Linked DNA regions of Homo sapiens: region 1 is linked to region 2. The links come from fine-mapping of genetic effects on gene expression. A gene starts in region 2. The other region holds a variant in brackets. All regions are shown on one strand. Distances are between the middles of the regions. Region 1 overlaps PLCB4 (phospholipase C beta 4). Region 2 holds the start of PAK5 (p21 (RAC1) activated kinase 5).

The links.
Region 1: its variant is fine-mapped to the expression of PAK5 in nucleus accumbens (GTEx, PIP above 0.99).

What each region holds. Positions count from the first base shown.
Region 1 is chr20:9,176,519-9,185,354 of GRCh38, forward strand. The region is part of intron 2 of PLCB4 (phospholipase C beta 4); the gene reads left to right. Among named protein-coding and RNA genes, the nearest start is that of PLCB4, 110 kb to the left of the region's middle. RefSeq lists an enhancer at 3,712-4,327. The variant C/T (reference allele first, on the strand shown) is at 4,052.
Region 2 is chr20:9,835,070-9,843,905 of GRCh38, forward strand. PAK5 (p21 (RAC1) activated kinase 5) reads right to left here and starts at 4,007. Exons shown (of 10, transcript NM_177990.4): 1 at 3,693-4,007.

The sequences.
Region 1 (8,836 bases), 660 kb before region 2:
CCTTAATTTTATGTTGATATCTACTGCATATTTATTTACATTATGCACACATATGTAAATGTATATACATACACACAAACAGGGAAATGTATACATATTTTATTATATCATATGAAGAAGCACCAGTTTTCAAAGTAAAATATAAGATCTTACTTTATGCATAAAATTCCAACCCATGAGCATATACACAAAACCCTTAAACTACATATAAGTAATTTCTGTGTTTTCCTTAGTGTTTGTTTACTTTAGTCATTTGCTGGCCATTACTGACAGTCAAATAGCAAACTTTTAAGAAAAATAATAGAAACTCTAACATGAGGAAACTGTTAGAAGCTTTTTTCCCTCTGACTTGGGAAAAGATAACTGCCACAATTTTGGGGCTGTGACTTCTGGTATTGTATCATGCAAAGTTTAAGAACTTCTGGGATAAGCAGTGGGCAAAGGGAGTGCAAATGGAGGAAACTGAGAAAGAATGATTATATAAGGAGCAACAATGATGGACTGGTGGCGAAGAAAGAAAGATTTTTCAAGGAGGGGTGGTTGGAACTTGGAAATCAAATAAGGAATCAAATGAAGATGGAACCCATGGCTGTGGCCCCATGGAGACAGAAAAAGTCAGATTTATACACAGGTCATTGTGACACTAAGCAGAATGTGAAAAAATATATCCAATAGAAATAAAAGCAGCATGTTAGTAGGGGCAGGAGAGCAGAGTAATAAAAATAACCTCGTCTCTATATATGAAATGCTGGAATTGCTGAATAGTGTTCCTGGAGTGTGGGAATAAACGATGTGGTTGAATGGGTTTGGGTTTGTTTTACAGATTTTATCCTAAAGATATGATAACTAATTAAACTACTGCTGTTAATTTGTGTCGAATACCAAGCAGAGCCTCGGGACTGGACTGAGACAGGGCCAAGGTGCTGGTATAAATTTCAGTGACTCATCTCTTGTGTCTAAAATAGCGGTAGGCTTGGGGGCAAAGTATAATCAAGGGAGGAAGTCATTTTGACACATGTTCCCCTTGAAAGCAACTTAGAACCAATGTAAGTAATTCAGTTTCTCAAGCTAGTGTTGGAAAAGGGGTGTAGATGGATAAGGGTGGGAAATGGAAAGTGAGCTTGCATCAAGTCATGAAAGACATTGTGTTGTATGCAAAGACGTTTTGATTTGATCCTACTTGTTTTCAAGATGACTTTAGGCATACACTTGGGCCTAAATGAAAATATTCTAATGGAATACATGCAAGGGCTCAGCGATTCTTAAGGGATTACTTTCCATGTTTTAAACTTTTACGTATACCCTTTCTTAAAACTGATCTGCCTAACACCTGCCTGTCCTCATCTCATTTTGTAGAAGGAAGATACTTATCTCATCTTTCCAAAATATTAATATGGTACATTGTCCTATGGTATAAAAACATTCCAAGTGCTAAACAGAAAAACACCGTGTTCTGCAACAAAACTGTGCTTAAAACATATTTGTATCATCAGTTGATAAATCGTTAAAAATAATTTTGGCCAGGCCAGGTGGTTCATGCCTGTAATCCCAGCACTTTGGGAGGCTGAGGCCAGTGGATCACCTGAAGTCAGGAGTTCGAGACCATTCTGACCAACATGGTGAAACCACGTCTCCACTAAAAATACAAAAGCATTAGCTGGCTGTGGTGGCGGGATCCTGTAATCCCAGCTACTTGGGAGGCTGAGGCAGGAGAATTGCTTGAATCTGGGAGGCGGAGGTTGCAGTGAGCTGAGATTGCACCACTGTACTCCAGCCTGGGCAATAGGAGTGAGACTTTGTCTCAAAAAATAAATAAATAAATAAATAAAAATAATTTTGAATTTGGATCACCTTCTGTGGTGGCATAAAACTCAAAAGGAGTTCAGAGATTGAAACTTTTCTTAGGGCAAAAACATTTTATCAGCACTTATGTGAAGAAAAATGAAAAACTGGAATAAAATTGATGGTAAAACTTTGTTATTTTAGCATTAAGTAATATTCATAGATGTATGGATTAATTTTTTAAAAGCCCTATCCATTTTATCAAAAGATATATTTCAAGTAAAGTTTTATATTTAATAATTACTAAAATTATATTAATATTTATGATATTTATGTGGTTTTTGTCAATTGCCTACCAGTGAAAACTTTAGTATAACTTAATTAAAATACATTATTTCACCCTTAGGGGCTAAATTCAAAGTAAATTTAAACTTAAAATTCTAAATTATGTATATATTTTGTTGTATATAGGGATATATGATAGATCAATAAAATACTTTTAGCCACAAAAATGTATTCATTAGGATAAAATTTTGCAGGGGAGGTAGAAAAGAAATAGAAAAAAGGCATTATAAAACATAAATGTTAAGTGTGAACTTGCTTATTTTTAAATAATTTTGGTGTTTACATTCTAGATACATTTAGGTATATCTAACAGCTATTATGTTTAAATTGTCAACATTTAGAACATTCTAGAAATTATATCTTTAACAACCCTTTTGAACTTATGATAAAAAATGAAGATAACTTAAAATTGACTTTTGGTGAGTTTTTCTAGATTTGTCTAGAGGGGTATAGGCACAGATTTTTTGAGGACCACAATTATGGGTAATGGGATATCACTGAAGGATTTTGAATAGGGGACTGTTTGATAAGATTGGTGGCTTTGAAAGGGTATTTTTCCATTGTGCAGGTGGATAGGGTGGCACATAGAGGTTGGGGTGATGGTAAACCAGGAACAAGTAAAACAGTGAGGAGAAGAGAGAGGGAGAGTTCAAAGCATGAAAGGGAGCAGGAGACTCAATATTGCTGGCTTCAAAGGTGAAGTAATAGGGCCATGAGATTCCTTGGCTCATGGCCCCATTACTTCAAGGAATGTGGGTGGCTTCTAGAAGCTTGAATGACAATGAAATGGATGATTCCTCTAGAGCCTCCTTAAAGGAAAGAAGCCTTGTTCCCATCTTGATTTTAGAGGTGAGATCCATGCTGCATTTCTGATCTACAGAACTGTAAGATGACATATTTGTGTTGTTTAAAGCCACTAGTTTGTGAATTTTATTACAGGAGCAATAGAAAACGAATACAGCAGATTTACCCAGGTTTTCCACTGAGGAAGGAGATGAGTCATTTGATACTGAGTTAAGTATGCCAAAGGTTGGCAGTCTAGACTTGTGGGCATTTTAGCCTCTTTGAGTACATGCTTGTTTTAGTGAATGAGAGAAAGCTGTTATGAAGGAACATTTTATATGAACTTGCTTGTTTTCATTTCTCTACACCTCACTGTCCTCTTCCTCAAAGCTAGGGGTTAGAATAGATTATCTCAGGTTCTCTTCAGCTTGAAAATTCTAAAATTATTTGCCTTGCATAAAATGAAAGAAACAAAACACACCACTATCCCCATAAAATTCCTTCTCTGGTGAGAATGAGGGGAAAAAAGGAGAACCACCTACAAGAATTATTGGTAAAAACACACATAGAATTCACTATAAAACACAAGCATGTGCTGTGCTTCAGATGCCTTGTTTAGGAATGTTTAGTTCTAAATGCTAGACATAAATCAACATATGTTCTGGAATTTTCATGATGAAATCTCTCACTGTGCATCAAAGTAAGAGAAATAGAAAGTTCTGAACAGGAGCATGTATTGTCCTAACAATCTTGTGGCCCCAATATTCATCATAATAAAAATTTTTCTGCCTTGGTATTATTATGGATAGTAATTATTATGGATAATAAAAATGATGGTGTATTAGTCAAGATCGGCTAGCTTATACTCTGACAATAAACAATTTCAAAATAAAAAAGACCATTAGTACTCATTGTTCAGCGATTTAAATCTCACAAGTAGAATCAGCCTCTTGATGGGGGATTTTTCCATTATAAAGCTGGTGCTACGATCTGAATTCTGCAAATTGGGGCATTTATTAGTTAGTGATCATATGGGATTGGTCTATGGAAGGATGCATGCTGAAGTCAGTTCTTTAGGGCTACATCTTGCCTAAACTCAGTTTAGCATGGCTGGTGTTACAACCCTCAATTCCTTTCTGCA[C/T]AGGGGAATAAGTAATTTCTGATATAACTGCTGCCTTTCACACAAAGGTGGGACTCTTGCTAAGCTGCTAGAGTGCAGTCAACCTTGCCACAAAGACTATGCAGATGACTTCAGTGTTCTCAATTCCTCCCTTGGTTGAAGATCACATTCACGCCCATTTCACCCATTCAAGGACTTTCAGGTGCAAATTTTGCAAGAAAAAGCTCCTCAGATTTCCCAAGAATCATCTCATTAGAAAGGAGTTTGGAATGTGATTCTGTCTGGATGCTATTTCTGTGATACCTTGAAAACTTTGTTCCTACAAAATTATTTAAGCATTTGAGCACAAAAATAAACAAATGTCCTTGAATTTATTATCCCATATGGGCTTGCCAACTGCTACAGTGAGACTTGTGGAGATGATAAGTCCCCTGTGAGTGAGGCACTTAAGCTGCAGGACCCATATGTTGTGCCTGATTGTAATGCAGAGAAAGTTCTTTGGAAACTATGACCTTAACCAAGCTTTGAATAGCTGACCAAGATAAAGCCATCAGAGATGTCCTAAGGGTTGCCATTCATAGAGGGTCATCAAAAGTCTTTGGCCTCATGCACTTTGTGCCACCCTCCTCACTAACATTCTATTCATGATATTAGTCTTTTTGAGACCTCCCAAATGGTGCTGATCTAATTCATTTCTGCAAACAGACTTCAGATGTTATGAGGTGTCTGTCAGATGAGGCTCAGGGTACCAAGCATTGTTTTTGCTTGCCATATTGATCACTGTTAAAGGTGTATCTGAAAGTAAGTCTTGATAGTCCCTAGCAATCAAAAGTGTTTCCTCAAGTCCTAATTTTTTAGGTGTTTTTCCCTATACCTTCTGAGTCTCTTACTTCAGGCTGCTATCACAAAATGCCATAGACTAGGTGCCTTATAAACAAAAGCCATTTCTTACCGTTGTGGAGGCTGGAAGTCCAAAGTCAAGGTGCCTGCAGATTCCGTGTCTGGAGAGGGCCCTCTTTCTGGTTTGTAGATGGTCTTGTCATTGTCCTTACATGGCACTCAGGTCGGGGGGATGGTGGAGGCAGAGTGTTTGTCTCTGTTCTTTTATAATGCTGTAAATCCCATCATACAGGCCCCATCCTCATGACCTAATCCAACTCTAATTACCTCCCAAAGACCCCACTTCCAAATACCATTACACTGGGGATTGGGGCTTCATTATGGAAATTTTGGGAGTGGAGGACACAAATGTTCAGTCCCTAGCAATCTCACTAGGACAACAAAGTGAGACAAATAATTGTTCTGTAGAGCTTCTTAGAATAACACCAATACAGTCTCCCAAAAGAGAGAAAGAAGATCAATAATAGGGGTTCTAGGAAATTGCTTTCAGACCTTGGGCTAATTTTATGAAATGATTTTGAGAAAAGGAAGGGCAAAGTGAGTAATAGATTTTAGCAACAGTCATGAGAGTGGGAGTTGAGAGGGCGGTGTCTGTTTTGTTGTTCTTTGTCCATAGCGTCTCACCTATAACCTGGCCCGTGGAAAATGTTCAAAAAATAAGTTTTGTATAAATGAATTGATCATTAGCTGGAGTGGTTTTATAGCAATAAGAATTACCTTGTTGAAGAATTGGTTCTTCTTTGCCTTTAAATGTCTTCAGGTTTGGGCTCCATTCTTGTAGCTAGCTGCTGACTATTGGTTTACCCCATGTAAAGTGAGTAAAGGGTTGAGGGTTTTTTCTTATCCTTAGGCTATCAATCACCTGCTTCTGGGGCTCTCACAGTTAAAAGAACTCTTTAAAGTTGGCTGTGCTGGAAGCTACCCATTATACCAGGCTGAAGTGTCTACGGGAGGCATGTTCTTCGTTTTTTGTCTAAAATTGAGGGTTTTGGGGAATTTGCTCAATCATCGCTAGGCCTAACTCAAGTCTCAGTAACCCGGGAACCTGTGAGCTATTACAGAAGATGCATCTGTAGTATTTACTGAGTGCATGGATGGGTGGTTTACAGACTTCTCCTCAACAAATAGCAGGGCTGTAATAGCAAGTGACAGGGAGCTTCTGGCAGAGGTAGAGATTGAAGGGCAGGTGGTTGGCCTGTTGTCTCTAGGAAATGAACTCCCAGCTCAGGCGCCTAGGACATGGGACTTCGGATTTTTAAACTGGGACTAGTTGGGTCACCCAGTGCTGAAACCTTGGCCCTCTGCCGACAGGCTAAGGGGCTTCCTGGTGTAGCTCTCCCTTCTCAGCTGTCTCAGCCATGTCCTTCCCATGCTCTGAGACACCACCAGCAGCAACAGTTTGGGGATCATGTGAAAGAAAAGTAATAAATACCTATTCTGTTTGGTCACATCTAATTGCTCATTTTCATCATATTTACAAGGAAGAATACGCTTACAGGGCCTGAAGCTACCACTCAGTGACTTCAGGATTCAACGTGTCTTTCTGCAGGGGTCAGGGAGTCACGCTGCTCTGCCTCACAGCACAGCTAGGAAGAATCTGTCTGTGTCTATTAAACTACAGGGAGAGCACCATTTGAAATCTCCCCTGCCCCGGAGGATGTTGTCCAAACATAAGTGGTGTCCCAGAGTTTTCTCTAACTCTCCAGCCCAAGTCCCTCTTACAGCCCAGGGAAGCCTGGGGCTCACCTATCTCGTGAAAATGTGCTGTATTGTTGGTGTCCCAGCCAAGGTACCCCAAGCATAATGGGGTAACTCCAGATTGGGTCACTAAGCCCATCTCCCACTACACAACGGCCACATTTCCCTCCCTCCCTCAGTTAGTTCTGGGGAGGAGGAAGTGATGAGGGCTGGTGAGGCTTCTCCAGAACAAGATGGAGATGCAACTCTAAAACCAGGTAGAGCGGGAGGCATGGGGGAAAGGGCTGTGATACCACAGAGGACGTAGAAATTTTTTTCCATCACCACACATAAGAAAGAAGAAAAGCTGCTAGATTTTTAAGTTTCAGTTTTGGAGTAGTATCAAAAAGGACCATCAAGCTGGAGATATTTATTTAGATAAGAATGCTGGTCTAATTTATCATTATTTTCAACTTCTCTTGCTTGTAGTTATAATTAGTGATAAGTAATATTTTAAGTGTTTTTTAATGGTTTTTGGAAATATTGTATACAGACGTTTAAAGTTGTATACAAATTGAATTAGGGAAAATGGAATCTCACTTTCCTGTTTGTATGTGTTATTGAAAAATATTATTTTAATTTTACATCAGATATCTTGATACCTCACTGGTATTAGGCTGAACCATACGAAATTGCTGTTTTTGTTGATCAAAATGATTAAATATTAGTTACTTCATATAGCTCATTGTAACATATTTATACCCTGGGTCTTTATAACCAGAGACAAGTGGATTAATCTATGAAGCTATTAAAAAATTCTATAGTAAATATATTTATAAACTGAAGAATCTGCTTTAACGTGAGCTACTTTCCCTGCACTATCAGTTTTTGCAAGTTTACATTTTTTTCCTGCAAAAAGAGGCAAAATTAATTTTAAAAATCTAAAGCCATTGGAAGGTACCAGAAGATGGGACGTTTCAAAGAAGGAATTAAATTGAAGGTAGAAGGCATCCTATTTCCTACATTGACTTCAACCCCCACCACCTTCTGCAATGATTCTGAAGGCGATCCTTGCTCAAAGGTGACCACCTCAGTATTGTGGTCATGGGAAAAAACGGAAAAGGGATCAGCATTCTTTAGCTTCTTTTATGGCTTTATTTCAGCTGGGTTTTCAAATTTTACTTGAGTAGATAGCTTTATTTGGCTCAGAATGAGTCAAAGTGGTTTTTTGGTGAATGTTTCCTTTACCTTCATAAGCACTTTCTTTAAAGTTCCAGGTGAAACCCCCAGCATGGTGGACACTGTGTCGTGATGTCATTGCAGGTGCTCTATTTGAGAAGCCATCCATGGTTTCTTCAGTTCTAGAAATGCTTCAGATTGATAACATTACTATGCTCATAGGTTTTATGTTGTTTTGAAATTAAATTAATATAGAAAGGAACCATTTGAGGGTGGTGACCCAGCATTGTGCCTCAAAAAAAAAAAAAAAAAAAAAACCTCTGGTTTTTATGATTAGGAGGCAATTTTTTTTTATTCAACTAGTTTTGACTCTTACGGAAATAAAACATCGCCACTATGAACCGATTTATGAGCTGTCAGGTGATCTTATGTGTTGTATACATATAACACACGCATCTAGGAGCTGTTTTAAAAATCTTGACAGTTGTACATTCAATTTGTGTAATGCTAGCCCTACTGTAAAATACTCTAGTTTTTTTGTTGGGACAGAACCACACCTAAGTGAAACTTGCAGCTAGCTGCCCATCTGCCCATGAATAGTTTACTACCTATTTATGTATTTATTTATTTTTCAGACAGGGTCTCACTCTGTCAGCCACCCCGGCTGGAGTGCAGTGGCACAATCATAGCCCACTGCAGCCTTGACCACCTGGGCTCAAGCCATCCTTCTGCTTCAGCTTCCCCAGTAGCTGGGACTACAGGTGTGTGCCACCATGCCCCACTGGTAGGGGTCTCACTATGTAGTGCAGGTTGGTCTCGAACTTCTGGCCTTGAAAAATCATACTGCCTTGGCCTCCCAAGTTGCTTGGATTATAGGTGAGAGCTACCACGCCCAGCCTAAGACTTTGCTTCCTTGTGGAAAAACTCCCTGGAAGGGAATCCCATATTAAATAGCAGGTGCTAAATAGAAACCTAGTGTTTGACTGAGTGATAACATTTTCTATAGTTTTTTTTTTATTTATACTGAAATTTAGAAAGGGCATATTATTC
Region 2 (8,836 bases):
TTCTAAATTGCTCTTTCTATACTAGAAAAGAAAAACCTTCTAAAAATCAGATCTTGAAGTTGGCACAGGAAAATGCTATGAGGCAGAGTATTCGTTCCTTCACTCATTCACCAAAAGTTCATTGAGCACCTTCTGCATATAAGACATAAAATAAATGGCCATTATAGAGCTTACAGACATAGCCAAACAAACAGGCATTTGCAAACTGGAATAAGTGCTGTGGAATAAAAGTGAAAGGATGATGAGAGAGTTGGGTCGGTGGGGAAGAGAGATCAAGGAAGCCCAAGGGATGAGTATGACCCAGACTGGTAAAATATAGAGGGAAGATGGTTGGGGATGTTCCAGAAACAGACAGAGGGTCAGTGTGACAGCATCAAGAGGAAGAGATGCACAAGATGAGGCTGGCCAAGTATCAGAGGCTCTAGGAGTCTCTGGAATCTGTCCCAGGTGTGTGGGTGGTATTTTATGTAGGGAACTGACATTATCCTCTCTGCTCTGGATGAAGGATTAGAAGAGCCAGGCAAGGAACCAGGGGTCTTGTTAGGAAGTTATTCTAGTGGTCCAGGTAAGAGATTATCATCTCTTGCAGTTTGATAGTGGTGGTGGTGGGGATAGAAATAATTTATCAAGATGTATTTAGAGATCTATAGAGAAAATAGCATTTATAAGACTGCATGATGGTTTTAAATGTGGAGGGTCAAGGGAAAGGAGGTGTCAAAGGTGATTCTTGGGTTTCTGGTTAAAGCAACTCGATGGATAGTGGTGCCATTTACCAGGTTAAGAAGGACTAGAAAGTTGTTAGCTTGCCTTTGTTGCTATTATTGTTTTTGTTATTTAATGCATTTTGGTTTTTTTGCATTTGTTTGGAAGGTTAGCAAGAAGGATGGAAGGCAACATCAACAAATCAACTGGGGGCACAGTATGTTTGAGATACTCTAGAAGATCCAGGTCCTGGGTTGTCTTGGCTCCCAGGTAAGTGACATGCATAAATGAGGTACTTTTGAACCCTGCTCTTCCCTACCATGGTTGTGTATATAAAGCCTCAAATAGGTTAGTTCCCTTAAATAATCTTTAAAGTATTTTCTGAATCCATGCTACTCTATCTTTACCTCTTATGCTAACATAATGTTAATGTTGTCATCAAACACAGTTCATAGGGATGTTGGTGTACTGGGCTGAAGAGTGTCTCCCAAGAATTCATGCCCATCCAGAACCTGTGAATATGACGTTTAGAAATCAGGCATTTGCAAATGTAACCTGGTTAATTTGAGGTCATATTGAATAAGGAACAGGTCCTAAATCCAATATGAATGATGTCCGTATAAGAAAAGGGAAATTTGGACACAGGGACAGAGACAGAGAGGAAGATGCCATGTGAATACAGAGGCAGAGATTGGAGTTATGCTGCCACAAACCAGGGAATGCCTGGGGCTACCAGAAGCTGGAAAAGGCAAGCAAGGATCCTCCCTTAGAGGTTTTGGAGGGTGCATGGCCCTGACAACATCTTGATTTTGGACCTCTAGCCTCCAGAACCATGAGAGAATAAATTTCTGTGGTTTTAAGCCACCCAGTTTTTGGTAACTTGTTATAACTGCCCTAGGAAACTAATATAGTTGGGAAATTTAAGGGAATTAACATGTTTGAGCCTGAATCATTATATAGGGCACATAGCATAGGTTCAGTAAATATCCATTTCCCTCTTACTCATAACAGTCACCACCATTTTCCTGGTGGTTTAAATTATGATTAATCCGTACATCTACTCATCTAGATAAGTCTTACTATTCCGAGGACTGTTCTATAAGTGAGGAAACTGAGGCTTAGGAAAGTTAAATAATTTTCCCAGAATCACAAAGCTAAACATAGAAGAGTCAGAGTTCAAACACCTGCCTCCCATACCTACAGCATTTCAGCAGGTCCTGACAGAGTGGAGAGGCACTGCCAGACTAGATTTTCAATGCTTAGATATCAATTGATTCAATGCTTAGATATCAATTTTCAATTAAACTCACATTTATTAATAAAATAACAAGCTGCAGAGACCTAGTACAATCTCTACCCACTCACAGAAGAACACTAGGTTTTTAGTCTAAGGCCAGCGTTACCAAGGAACTTGCCATTGGCTTATATTGCTTCCATTTAGCAGTGCATCTGCCTTGCACATATGTATTCCAAGTCAAGGTATTATCAGATTGGACATTTATGGCTTTAATTTACTTAAATGCATTTTCCTTATGTATTCCCCCACTTCATTTTGATGATACTGACTCATTCTCGCCACCTAACAAGACTATAAAAATAAATAGTGTGAGTGCAGAGGAAACTGTCTCCAAACTTCATATGCTAAGATGCCCATCCTTTAAATTATAAAGCAAAAAATAAACCCATGCTTTAAATTTACCTTTCTCCCTAACTAACCTGGTTATCTTTCTCCCCAAGATTGAGTTGTTGTGCTGTTGAATATAACAGATACACAAATCTAAGGTGGCACAGCTGTTATTATAAGGTGTCAATTTCATAGAATTCTAGTGTAGGAGGGACTTCTAAAAAGCATCTTGTCCATCTATATCAGGTAAGAGAAAGAGTGTCTACAGCCTCCAAGCCCCAGAAGAGAAGCGGTTGCACTAGAAGATTTTTGTGAGTTACCTAAGACCCTGTGGCTATGTCTTGGTAGAACTCCGTAGAATGCCAGGTTTCCTGATTTTCCTAAAAGTGTGTTCAGTCTTTCAAGCTGTCATCAACTATTAACAATGACACTTTCCTCTGGCTTTGTGCCAACTTTTCTTTTTGTTTATTATTCTGGCCATAAAAAGACCACCATAAATAGCCTCAGCGTTTCAGGTTCCCTTAATTGATATCTAATGTTGACAAATTAACTCAGCCCGAGTTGAAAGCTCCATATACACACACATGGTTTCAAGAAGGGCGATCGCGCTTATCCTCCAAACTGAGCAGTGATGATCCCTGGACTTCTCAAGTTTACCCTCTAGGAGGCTGACATGGCACACAATTTTGACAAGAGTTTGGAACCAAGATCCTCTTCCACGCCCTGCTCACAAGGGTGCCCACAAGCAGAAGTTCTCTCTCTGTCTCTCCATTACAACCCACCAGGCGCGCGCGCACACACACACGCGCGCACACACACACACACACAAATAACAAAGGAAAACACAGCCTCATAAAGGCTCAGCTATTGCATCCTCCAGTCCACACCTGCCAAAAGACAAAAACCATGCGGGAATCCTGCTCTGGCAATATGTCCAACACTTCTCGGGAAAAGCAGCGCCGTGGCACCCCCAGGGCGTGCGCTGCTGTATACACACAAAGAACTGGTGCTGGGCTTGCGAGCAGTTCGGGGTACCAGCACGCTCTCAGGGCTGGAATCCGGGGTTCTCCTCCACGCCCTCCCGCCCAGCAAAATGGAACCATCCTTTATTTGGTTGGTAGAGAGCCCAGGCTGGATAGTAGCGCATGGGTTGAGGGTGGGCGGTCCCCTATCCCTACCCTCCAGGCAGCAGGTCCCTAGCCTTTGCATCTCCTAGGAGATGCAGGATCGCGCTGTCACAGTGGTCCTCTTCGCATCCTCTCCCGGCAAAGAGAGATGCTCCGGTTACCAGCGGCGCGCATCCCCGCAGGCGCCTCTCCTCTCGCCGATACCCACCCAGGCAGTCCCGACAGGCGCGCCTGCCTACCTGGTGGCCGGCTGTCAGCGAAGCGGCGGTGCCTCAGCCCCTTCTCAGCTGCTACAGCGCTCCCAGCGCCATGTTCCCGGTCTCCCCGGGCGCACGCTGGGGAACTACTACTGGCTGGGTAGGGGCAAGGGGGGCGGGGGCCAGCGGGAGGGGGTGAGAGGCAGAGCCACAGCTTTCTACTCTCCACCCAAACCTCCCCCAGCTACTGAGCATGCCCAGCTGCCCGGCTTCGCCCCTCGGAGGACTGTCCATGAGCGTACGCAGCTGCTCCGGGTTTTCGTGGCAGCCGGCGGGAGGCAGGCTGTAGCGGCGGCCGGGGGTGGAGGTGAGGGGGAGGGTCGGGGGGCGTGTCTACACTCAGGGTGCAGGAGCCAGGAGCCGGGAGCTGGAGCAGGCGACCAATCCAATCACGTTTACTCCCAGTCGTCCCCGGCGGGGGCAGCTCCTGCACGCCCTCTCCCCCAACACTCGGGATTTGCAGAAATGTTGTTCAGGACCATTGCAGGATTGAGTTTTGCTTAAGAGGCTAGCAGAGGTGGGGAGGAGGAGGGGCTGAGAAGCAGAACAGTGGGCTGGCCTCTTTGCCACCACCTGGACCGGTGATTCTCAAACTTTCATGTGCCTGTGAATTAAAATGCAGATTCAGATTCAATTGGCTGGGTCCTGAGATTCTGCAAGCCTAACAACCTCGCAGGTGATGCTGCTGCTGCTGGCCCTCCCACCACTCCGAGTAGCAAACATCTAGAGAACCCCTTATCTGTGACCTCTCAGTGGCCATCCTTCAATCCGCCAGCCTAGCAATGGTCTCTGGTGTCCACAGAGACTCCTCCAGCCTGGGGTTGCTGAGCCTTACCTGGAAGGAGTGTTTGTGGGGCTAGGCTGTGACCACCCAGCTTCTCCTTGGCTGCTGTCTGATTTCGAATTTAAGGCCCAGGGGAAGAAGGATTCCTGGACCTTTTCATGCTCACTTTGCTAGCTGGCTAGTAAGCCAGTTGCTGGATGAGCTGCCCCGGTCAAGTCTGAACCAGTCTGCCTTGGCTGTCCCCTTGCCTTTCCTGAGCTGGGACAAAAACTCAGACTGGGCATCAAAGTGTTTATTGTACATCTAATAGCAAGCTTGGGCTTGCCTAGTTAAGAAAGCCGACAGATTATGACAAACATAGAGCGCATTTTTGTACCAAGAGATGTCAGGCCTTTGTGTTCAGTGATGTTTGGGCTGAAGTTTGCAACGATATTTGTGGTTCAACTTAAACTTCCCAGTTGCCTACTGCCCTCCCAGACTCTTGAAGTCTCCAGCATTATCAAGACTCTAGTGAATGAAAGACATTCACGAAGTAGTCCTGAGTTTTCACCCTTGGAAATGAAGAAGCCACGCTCTTGTCTGTCTTCAGCTGCCACAAGAGTACCCTTATGAGCTAGTAGTGGATATGGAATCTGATCCCATAACTAGATAGCAGGTTACAAAATAAGGATTTGTATCTCTCCGTTCCTTATTATACTCAATGACCTTAGACAGTTTTCTAGCTAATAGTATAGTAGTTATCATTTCCCCTTGCTTGTTTTCCATTCACTTAGTACCTTTAATATTGTACTGGCCATATCAAAACAGAAACCACAGGATAAATGGATGATTACTTTTCTCCCTCAGTAGTCCCATGTCCTTGTGTATCATACTCATCTCTTCCTTCTCAAAGCTGCACACAGCCCTAACAACCTACCCACTGCCACCATCGTCACCCCCACAACTATATGCATAAATATTTTCTACTTTTGACTTTCTTATATGTGTGCTCACATAGATGCAAAAGCCAGAACATATTTTTACTGAGATATCGTTTATTTGTCATTGGTTAGTATCAGTTAAAATTTTTATTTGAAATATTGAACTTTAATCACTTAAAATAGCCTTCCTGTTATACATAAAGTTTGTGTTTGTACATTTGTTTCTGCTAGTTAAATATGATGATGATTGTTAGCTGCCTCAAATTTATTTTGGAAGCGTGCAAGGTAAAAATTATAGATGAATAATAATGCTATTTCTGTAAATACTGCATTGCATGAATTCCTAAGGGTTTTCTTTATATGTAATGCCATTTCTTGAGGGTTTAGCCTGCAGTATTTGACTAAGGACCAACATCTGTGGGTGGGAGGGATACAGGAAGCAGGAGCAGGCAGAGGTAGAAGCTAAGCTGTGATGCAAGCCAATTGCAGCCTTTGTCAGCCCCTTATGGAGCTCACTAGCTAGGGTGATCCTTCAGAATGACCATGAGTTGGTCTGAGATAGTCAGTCCTTTACATCCACATCAATCATTGAGCATGGGCTGTTCCTAGGAGGGGCACGAACTTAAGACAGGCAGCTCTGGCAATTCTTACAGGTAACAACAGCTAAAGGCCTCTGTCAGCTGTAGTCCCTGTGGCTGCAGTAACAAATCCTTCACTTAAGGGGAATTTAGGCAAAACATTCCTTTGTCCACCACATTGATGTATTTATTGAATACAGCACTTTTGAACACACAAAGTAGAACTCTACTGATTTGTCAGACAGATTTTAAAACTTTATTTTTGAATAAGTAATAGACTTTCTCTCTGGCTCAAAGATTTAAAAGTTGGAAAATAACCTGTAATCAGCCATTGAGAGTATACTATCTATTTAGGTATCTGGCTGTATGCATTTTTTATATGACTAGTTTAATTATGATTTATTGAGCAGGCATGTATTTATTGTCTACCATTTAAGACATAATTTTCTCTGTCAAAATCTGTATTTGTAATTTGTAATGGGGTAGGAATAAGTGTTTGATAGTAAATAGAAGTGTGTTTTTCAATAAAACAGAGCTACTGACTAGTCAAGATTTCATGAGAAACTAATGTCAACCAACCTTGTTGACACCAAAAACTGTGACAAGATGAACCTGAGGGGTGGAGAACTTGGTAGATTGGCTGACAGGGATGTGTAAGACAGCATGCTGGAACCCAGGTTCAGACTACCCAGCTCATTCTCTTTACCTTCTCCAGGCTATGCATCTACAAATGGCTGGAATTCTTGAAAGATGAACCGCAACCATAAGGGAACCAGCATAGATTCTAGAAATGAAGCAGGACATTTGCTCAGATAGTGGAGGTAGGGAAAGAATAGGAGGTGGAAAAGAATGTTCCAAGGAACATAAACAAAAGCATATAAAGAATAGGTCTCTAAAGAATTCCCCCAAGGAAACAGAAAAAAAAGTTCGGACAAATATTTTTTCCCGAGTTTCAATGGAATGAAAGGCAATATAATCTGAATAATGTTTTTTAAAAGCACCATAAAGAAATATAAGGATTTAAAGACAGACAATAAGACTAAAATGAAAGATAAACTAGCAGAGTTCAGGGAAAAATAAAAGCCATTAAACCACTCAAAAGGTAAGAGACTAAGGGCCAGGCGTGGTGGCTCACGCCTATAATCTCAGCACTTTGGGAGGCCAAGGTGGGCGGATCACTGAGGTCAGGAGTTCAAGACCAGCTTGGCCAACATGGTGAAACCCATTTCTACTACAAATACAAAAAAATTAGCCGGGCGTGGTGGTGGGCGCCTGTAATCCCAGCTACTCAGAAGGCTGAGGCAGAAGAATCACTTGAACCCGGGAGGCAAAGGTTGCAGCCGAGATTGCACCACTGCACTCCAGCCTGGGCGCAACAGAGGGAGACTCCGTCTTACAAAAAAAAAAAAAAAAAAAAGAAAGAAAGAAGGAAAGAAAGAAAGAGAGAATAGGAAAAAAAAACAGACTAACCACTGAAAACACAGTGATAAATAGACAAGTACTTAGCTACTAACAAATAAGTATAAAACAAATCATAGACCATTTTTATGAAATACAAACAAAGGAGATCCAACACATGTACAACCAGTAACATGCAGGAGCTGGCTTGCACCAGCTTGCAAGAGCTGATTGGGCATACGTACTGCTTCCTAACTCCATTTTCAGTAACAGCTTGAAATCAGCCACTGTGGAAGTATTTACCCCACACAAATGGACAAATGCTACAAATCAGGGTTTTGTTTGTTTGTTTGTTTTCAGACAACTGGTTATTACATATCTACCAGAATACCACTTTTTACAACCTTTGCTGTTAAAAAAAAAAAGAATAAAATGGAAGAGAAAAAAATAATCAAAGATGTAATAGAAACACAAAAGTTAGTTTCCTGAAATAGAGAGTGTTAGATCAGCAGAACAAAAGAACACAATTGTCTCAGGGGAAAAAAAAGAATCAACCTGGAACAATTAACCCTAAAATATATCCTACTGAAGTTACAGAACTTCAAAGACAAATAATGTTCTGAATATCCAGACAGAAAAGGCAATTTACATATAAGAAAAAGAAAGTCAGTGTGCATTTAGATTTCTTCACTCTCATCAAGCAATGCCTGAGGGTGTTCTGAGGGAAAGAAAGGGTGACCTAAGAATGTTTATTTTCCTACACTGGTGTTCTTCAGATTTTCAAGGCAACAGTCAATTGTTCTCAAATGCAATAAATCAGTATACACAGCAGAAAAAAACCTTTATAATATTCTACTTCATTATCAAATTTATACAACTAAGAGATAAATTTAAAACATAAATCTCATGAACGATGAAGCTGTGGTCAAATGTGATAATGATAATCATATTTATTTTAAAATAAATCTAAGACTAAACCACTGGTGTTTGGCAGTTTTAAATCAGAACATAAATATAAACCTTGACAATGTCAGTATCATTGGATAACTTACTAAAATCTGAAGGTAGAAAGAAGGGAGTTGTAAGGAGGTTTAAGTATAATGATTTCCTCAGCAAGTGGTCAATGTATATTATTAAAGTTGCCGCAGATAGATAGAAAACCCCACCTCTGATCTCATCATGCTTTTTTCTTACCTTTAAGGGAATATGTTTCAAACTTATCTCTCTATATGAAAAAAAACCGTTTTCTGAAGTTGAGAGATTACTGCAGGCACATTTTAGCTTCTTTTCTTATTTAATTTTAATAAGATTAAATACAATTTAGTTTTAAAGTAGCTTCTGTGCTATCATCCACATATGGATGATACTTGAAAAAGTATATCTGTCAACTTATCCTACTTGTTATAACCTTATATTTTTATCTCTTTCTATACAGGAAGATTTATG